Homo sapiens: one gene and its partner. The protein of the gene in region 1 purifies or fractionates together with the protein of each later gene. This does not show direct contact. Each region holds a gene or a part of one and is shown in the gene's direction. Other genes may lie near its edges.

The links. Proteins that work in one complex are often made in the same cells at the same time.
Region 2: the proteins of COL23A1 (region 1) and COLGALT1 purify together in Homo sapiens (affinity purification with mass spectrometry; one large-scale study listed by BioGRID and IntAct). This does not show direct contact.

The regions. Positions count from the first base shown.
Region 1 is NC_000005.10:178,240,894-178,244,393, reverse strand, and holds part of COL23A1 (collagen alpha-1(XXIII) chain), read left to right. Parts: intron 1-1,999; coding exon 2,000-2,053; intron 2,054-2,265; coding exon 2,266-2,352; intron 2,353-3,500.
Region 2 is NC_000019.10:17,558,649-17,562,148, forward strand, and holds part of COLGALT1 (procollagen galactosyltransferase 1 precursor), read left to right. Parts: intron 1-662; coding exon 663-773; intron 774-1,699; coding exon 1,700-1,817; intron 1,818-3,500. UniProt on the Homo sapiens protein: Beta-galactosyltransferase that transfers beta-galactose to hydroxylysine residues of type I collagen. By acting on collagen glycosylation, facilitates the formation of collagen triple helix. Also involved in the biosynthesis of collagen type IV.

The DNA.
Region 1 (3,500 bases):
GTTGTTCTCAGGAAAATCAGGTAGCTATTTTGAGGGACATAGGCCCAGATGCAGGGCTGCAAGGACTCTGGTGCCCACCCTAGACTTTAAAAAGAGAACATTACCGGCCAGGCACGGTGGCTCACACCTGTAATCCCAGCACTTTGGGAAGCCGAGGCGGGTGGATCACGAGGTCAAGAGATAGAGACCATCCTGGCTAACACGGTGAAACCCTGTCTCTACTAAATATACAAAAAAAAAAAAAAAATTAGCCAGGCATGGTGGCGGGTGCCTGTAGTCCCAGCTACTCAGGAGACTGAGGCGGGAGGATGGCATGAGCCCAGGAGGCGGAGCTTGCAATGAGCTGAGATCGTGCCACTGTGCTCCAGCCTGGGCAACAGAGTGAGACTCCGTCTCAAAAAAAAGAACATTACCTGGGAGAGCAACTGTGGACGAGGGAAAGGAAGAGCTGTAGCTTGGGTTTCTGACGGGGGTGCTGGGTTCCATCAATGGGAAGGGATGGGAGAGGACAATGCTGAACCAGCTGCAGGCTCTGGGCCCAGTTGAGGGTGGAGCTAAGGAGACTCCATGCCACCATGAATGTGGCCACAGCTGCCTTCCAGGAGGCCTGGTTCTCAGGGTGGCATCTCAAAGCCATGCCCACCTGCTCTACCTGGCAAATGCCAGGCTCCTCCTCAACCCCAGAAGGCCCAACTATAATGAGGACCGTGCTGAGAAACTCCCCTTGACCCCCACCTGTGATAGAACAGCCCTTCCCTCCAGAATCCCACCACCCCTATTTCACACCTCTGTCACTGAGCATTGACTGTCATCAGCACTCTCTTGCCTGCCCCGTTACACGTGAACAAGGGACCATGTCGAATCCAATTCTCTTTTTAAAATTGTTTCTTTTTTTTTTTTTTTTTGGAGATGGAGTCTCACTCTGTCCACCCAGGCTGGAGTGCAGTGGCATGATCTCGGCTCACTGCAACTTCTGTCTCCCGGGTTCAAGCGATTCTCCTGCCTCAACCTCCCAAGTAGCTGGGACTACAGGTGCACGCTGCTAGGACGGCTAATTTTTTGTATTTTAGGAGAGATGGGGTTTCACTGTGTTGCCCAGGCTGGTCTTGAACTCCTGAGCTCAAGCAATCTGCCTGCCTTGGCTTCCCAAAGTGCTAGGATTACAGGCGGGAGCCACCATGCCTGGCCTCTTTGTTTGTTTTTTGAGACAGAGTCCCGCTCTGTCGCCCAGGCCAGAGTGCAGTGGTGCGATCTCGGCTCACTGCAACCTCCACCTCTCAGGTTCAGGCAATTCTCCTGCCTCAGTCTCCCAAGTAGCTGGGATTACAGGCGCGCATCACCATACTCGGCTAATTTTTGTGTTTTTTAGGGTTTCGCCATGTTGGCCAGGGTGGGTCTCAAACTCCTGACCTCAGGTGATCTGCCCACCTCGACCTCCCAAAGTGCTGGGATTACAGGCATGAGCCACCATGCCCGGCCACAATGAATCCAATTCTGTGTCCCCAGTGTCCAGCCAACAGCCCGGTTCCTAGTGGATGTTAAGCCACCTTGGTTGGGTGGACGGACAGATAGATGAATGGACAGATGGGTGTGCAGGAAGTTGAGCCAAGGGCACAGAACAGAGATCACCATTTCTCATCCCATCAGACAGTGACATAACTTCCATGGTTTCCGGGGTCTCTGTCCCCAGCCAAGCCTAGACCAGTGCCAGCCGCGTCTGTGATGTGAGAGACAGCCCCTTGCCAGCAGCTCTGCCTGAGTGTTGGTGTCCAGCGACTACTTTGGAGCAAGCCCAGCTGGCATCGTAAATGCATGCTCTTCCTACATCAGCCTTGTACCCAGCAGTGTATCACCTACAGCTAGGGCTAGGCCAGCGTGTGCCACGAATATGCAGGGGGGAAAGTGGGCGTGTGGATGGGAGAGGAACAGAGATGAGCCGGTAACAGAGGGGCAAACCTCCAGCCTCATTTTCGGGTTTAGCATCTAATCCTTTTGTCAGGGTTTCCCTGGACCCCGAGGAGAGAAAGGTGATCGGAGCGAGCGTGGAGAGAAGGTGAGGGCAGCTGGACGGGAGCTGGGGCAGGAGGAGAGGGGGAAGGAGGCAGGTGGGAGTGGAGGCTCAGGTGAAGCAGGTAGAGAGAACCCAGGCCGGGCAGGTGGGCGGAGGCAGGGGGAGGCTGGCCCCACGCGCTTCTCTCGGAGAGATGTTGGAGGTTCCTAAGCCTGGCAGCCATGACCAATACCACCATCTCCCCTCCTGCACAGGGAGAACGAGGGGTCCCCGGCCGGAAAGGAGTGAAGGGCCAGAAGGGCGAGCCGGGACCACCAGGCCTGGACCAGCCGTGTCCCGTGGTAGGTGTCGGAGGAGGGCCCTGCCCCAGGTCTTTTTGGCCTCCAGCCAGGGTCAGCCCAACATCTTCCCTGTCCTCGGAACTCAGCTGCAAGTCCCAGAGGCCCCACTGGTCACGCACTGGCCTTCCTCACTGTCAGGGCCACTGCTGCTGCTACTGCCATCATCGCGGTTCCCCTTGCTCTGGTCCTAACCACCCCCAACCATGGGCATGACTCAGGGAACCCAGCCCCTCTGTAGAGCTGGAGGCCCAGCCCCTCATTCTTCACCCCCAGGACAGGCCTGGCTTGAGTAGGAACCCACTGTGGGCCATCTTGGGCTGGAAGTGGACAGGGCCTAGACCAGGAGTGGAGGGGCTTTACCTGGAGTCATCAGCACCATCAGCGGTGCCCTGGGAGGGGGCTGGGCCCTGCGGAGGGAACCAAAGTTAGCACAGACACGCTGCCGCTGGGGGCGGAGGCAGTGAGTGCCCAGCCCCATCGCTGTGGTCTGGCTGCCTGGGGTGGAAGTCGGGGTCTGACTCCCACTGGGCCTGAGGCCAAGCTGAGCTGAAACTCAGCTTCCCCAAGCACAGACGGTGGGACCACCCTGACCTCTCTGGCTGGCTGTGCCTCCCCTTCCTTCCTCCTTCCCAGAAGAGTCTCTCTGGGCTGGGGCAGCACCTCCCTCTTCCCCACATCCCCTCTGCCTACCCCCACACCCTTCCTGTACCTCTTTCTGTGCTCTCTCAGTGGCCTTTGGCAGCCCACCAGCCCCAGTGGTTTCAGGCACTGGTGCCTGAAACAACCACAGTTCAAAAGTCAGCTCCATTTATTTCTTTTCGGAGACAGAGTCTCACTCTGTCGCCCAGGCTGGAGCGATCATGGTTCACTGCAGCCTCCATCTCCCAGGCTCAAGTGATCCTCCTGCCTCAGCTTCCCAAGTAGCCAAGAACTACAGGCATGCACCACCATGCCCAGCTAATTTTTAATTTTTGTAGAGCTGGGGTCTTGCAATGTCGTCCAGGCTGGTCTGGGCTCAAGCGATTGTCCCACCTTAGCCTCCCAGAGTGCTGGGACGACAGGTGTGAGCCACTGTGCCCTGCCTAGTTCCTTTTTCTAGAAAGTAGGGAGGGTTTACATGTCACACTCTTCCGGTGGAGCTCAGAAAA
Region 2 (3,500 bases), on another chromosome or scaffold:
GCCTGGGTGACAGAGCAAGACTCTGTCTCAAAAGAAAAAAAAAATTAAGTGACACATATTTGTTAGTGAATGTGGTTTGCAAGATCTTAGATGCTCAGTAATAAAACAGCCAATCACTAATGGGTCTTTCCAAAATCAGCTTGTTTAATCCTTCCACTTCCCAGTAAACTGGGTCCTGTTCCCACCCCCATGTTACAGATGAGGAAACTGACATGGAAAGGGAGAAATGGGCCGGGCGCGGTGGCTCACGCTTGTTAAGTCCAGCACTTTGGGAGGCCAAGGTGGGCGGATCACGAGGTCAGGAGATCGAGACCAGCCTGGCCAACATGGTGAAACCCCGTCTCTACTAAAAATACAAAAAAATTAGCCGGGTGTGGTGGCGGGCGCCTGTAGTCCCAGCTACTTGGGAGGCTGAGACAGGAGAAGGCGTGAACCCGGGAGGCGGAGCTTGCAGTGAGCCGAGATCGCGCCACTGCACTCCAGCCTGGGCAACAGAGCGAGACTCTGTCTCAAAAAAAAACAAAGGAAAGGGAGAAGTGTCCTGTCCAGGGATACATAGCTGGTGGGAGGCCAGTTGGGGATGGTGGTCCTTGACTTGCCTCACTGCTGCCTGGTCCTGCCTCAGTCTCCCCAAGTACGCTGCCTGTCCCCTCTCCCTGCAGGGTGGCTACGGACCACAACATGGATAACACGTCAACTGTGCTGCGGGAGTGGCTGGTGGCCGTGAAGAGTTTGTACCATTCCGTGGAGTGGCGGCCAGCAGAGGAGCCCAGGTGAGCATCTTTCCCCTGCTCCTAGTCTGATTGGGCTTTGCCTCTGCTCACACACCCTCTATGGCTCCCCATTGCCCCAGAACAATTACAGGCCCTCAGTCCCTGCCTCCAGCCCAGCCAGGCAGCATTAAGCTACTCTGAGCCTCCCTCAGCTTTACAAATAGGCCATAATCCTCTTCTCAGACCTTTGCCCAAGCCGTTCCCTGTACCTAGAATTCTTTCACTCCCTTTTTCTTCTGGGGACGCCCACTGCTTTGTTCCCTGGCTCACTGACTCAGTCTTGGTCCCAGCACTGGCTTTGCTGTTTATCTACTCCCTAAAGCCCTGGGCAGCATGGACTCCCTGCCCCCACCCAGTTCCTTTCTGGGTTTTTGTTTTTTTTTTGAGACAGGGTCTCACTCCCTCACCCAGGCTGGAGTGCAGTGGAGTGAACACAGCTTACTGCAGCCTTTAACTCCTGGGCTCAAGCCATCCTCCCGCCTCAGCCTCCTGAGTAGCTGGGACTACAGGCACATGTAACCATGCCTAGCTAATGTTTTTGTATTTTTTGTAGAGATAGGGTCTCACTGTGTTGCCCAGGCTGGTCTCAAAGTGCTGGCCTCAAGCGATCCTCCCACCTCTGCCTCCCAAAGTGCTGGGATCGCAGGCGTGGGCCACTGCACTGGACCCCACTGAGCTTCCTTCCTTCCTTCCCTCCAGTGTGCCTCGGGCTTTCTTCCCTCCAGGCCTTTGCACAGGCTGTACCTCCGGCCAGGAACATTCTCCCCACTTCTCTTTCCTCGTCGTTTACTTTTTCCCATCCCTCAGATCAGCTTACACGTCCCCTCCTCCAGGAAGCTCTCTCTGAGTACCCCGAAGGCAGCTCAGGCCCTCGCTGGGCTTTGATAGTGCCTTGTGATGTCCACATCACAGCTGCCTCCCCATAGGTCCTACCCGGACGAGGAAGGCCCGAAACACTGGTCTGACTCACGCTACGAGCATGTCATGAAGTTGCGCCAGGCAGCCCTGAAATCAGCTCGAGACATGTGGGCTGATTACATCCTGGTAAGTTTCTCAGCCGGCCGGATATGGATCACAGGCAGGTCTGGGTATCCCCAGGGAAGGCGGAGCAGCAGGATGCCAGGACCATCCTTAATGTTGTTTTGCAGAAGGGTAAACTGAGGCTTAGAGAGGGGAGATGAGTTGCTTGAGGTGATATGGTTGGTCAGTGGAGGAGGAGCTGGGATTCATTTGATCCTCAGCACTAGGAATGAATGGGCTTTTCTGTCCCCAGTTGTCCCCTGTGTTTGGACACTTGGGTCAAGTCCATTTTTATTTTTTTATTTTTTTGAGACAGAGACTCACTCTGGTGCCCAGGCTGGAGTGAAGTGCCGCAATATCGGCTCACTGCAACCTCTGCCTCCTGGGTTCAAGCGATTCCCGTGCCACAGCCTCCTGAGTAGCTGGGACCACAGGCACCCACCACCACGCCCGGCTAATTTTTTATTTTTATTTTTGTGGAAGCCAGGCATGGTGGCTCATGCCTATAATCCCAGCACTTTAGGAGGCCAAGGCGGGTGGATCACTTGAGGTCAGGAGGTCGAGACCAGCCTGGTCAATATGGTGAGACTCCATCTCTACTAAAAATACAAAAATTAGCCGGGCGTGGTGGCAGGTGCCTGTAATCCCGGCTACCTGGGAGGCTGAGGCAGGAGGATTTCTTGAACCTAGGAGGCAGAGGTTGCAGTGAGCCGAGATCGTGCCACTGCACTCCAGTCACTGGGCGACACAGTGAGACTCCATCTCATAAATAAATACATAAATAAATATTTTTAAAAAATAACAAATAAAAAATATTTTTGTAGAGACGGGGTCTTGCTATGTTGCCCAGGCTGGTCTCCAACCCCTGGGCTCAAGTGATCTTCCTGCCTCGGCCTCCCAAAGTGCTGGGATTACAGGCATGGGCCACCGTGCCTGGCCGTGTCACGTCTGTTTTTATCACCATCATATGTAATGGCCAAACCTTTGGGTCACTTCCAAGAAGCAGGAGGAAGGGGTCAGGGGCTGGGGGGTGGTGGCCACATTGAATTGCTGAGGCCTGACTTGCACTTCCTCCTCCTGTGGGGACATTGTCTCATGGGGAAGGGAACAGTTGAGTCTTTTTATTTTTTTCTCGAGCCAAGATCACGCCACTGCACTCCAACCTGGGCCACAGTATGAGACTCTGTCTCAAAAAAAAAAAAAAAAAAAAAAAAACAGACTTATAGGTTGAATATTACTATTATTTTTTAATTTGTATAAACTTATGGAGCACAAGTGTAATTCTGTTACATGCATAGATTGTGAAGTGGTGAAGTCAGAGATTTTGGGGCGTCCATCCCCTAAATAATATACATTGAACCCATTACACAGTTTTCTATGATCAACCCCAAATGTTATTTCAGCCTTCATACTTTTCTATATTCTCCTGATTTTCTTTTTTCTTGTTTTTTGAGACAGAGTCTCTGTTGCCCAGGTTGGAGTGCAGTGGCACAATCTCGGCTCACTGCAGCCTCCTCCTCCTGGGTTCAAGCAATTCTTCTGCCTCAGCCTCCTGGGTAGCTGGGATTACAGGCCCCCGCCATCATGCCTGGCTAATTTTTGTAATTTTAGTAGAGACGGGGTTTCGCCATGTTGGCCAGGCTGGTCTCTAAAGTCCTGACCTCAGGTGATCCAGCTGCCTCGGCCTCCCAAAGTGCTGGGATTATA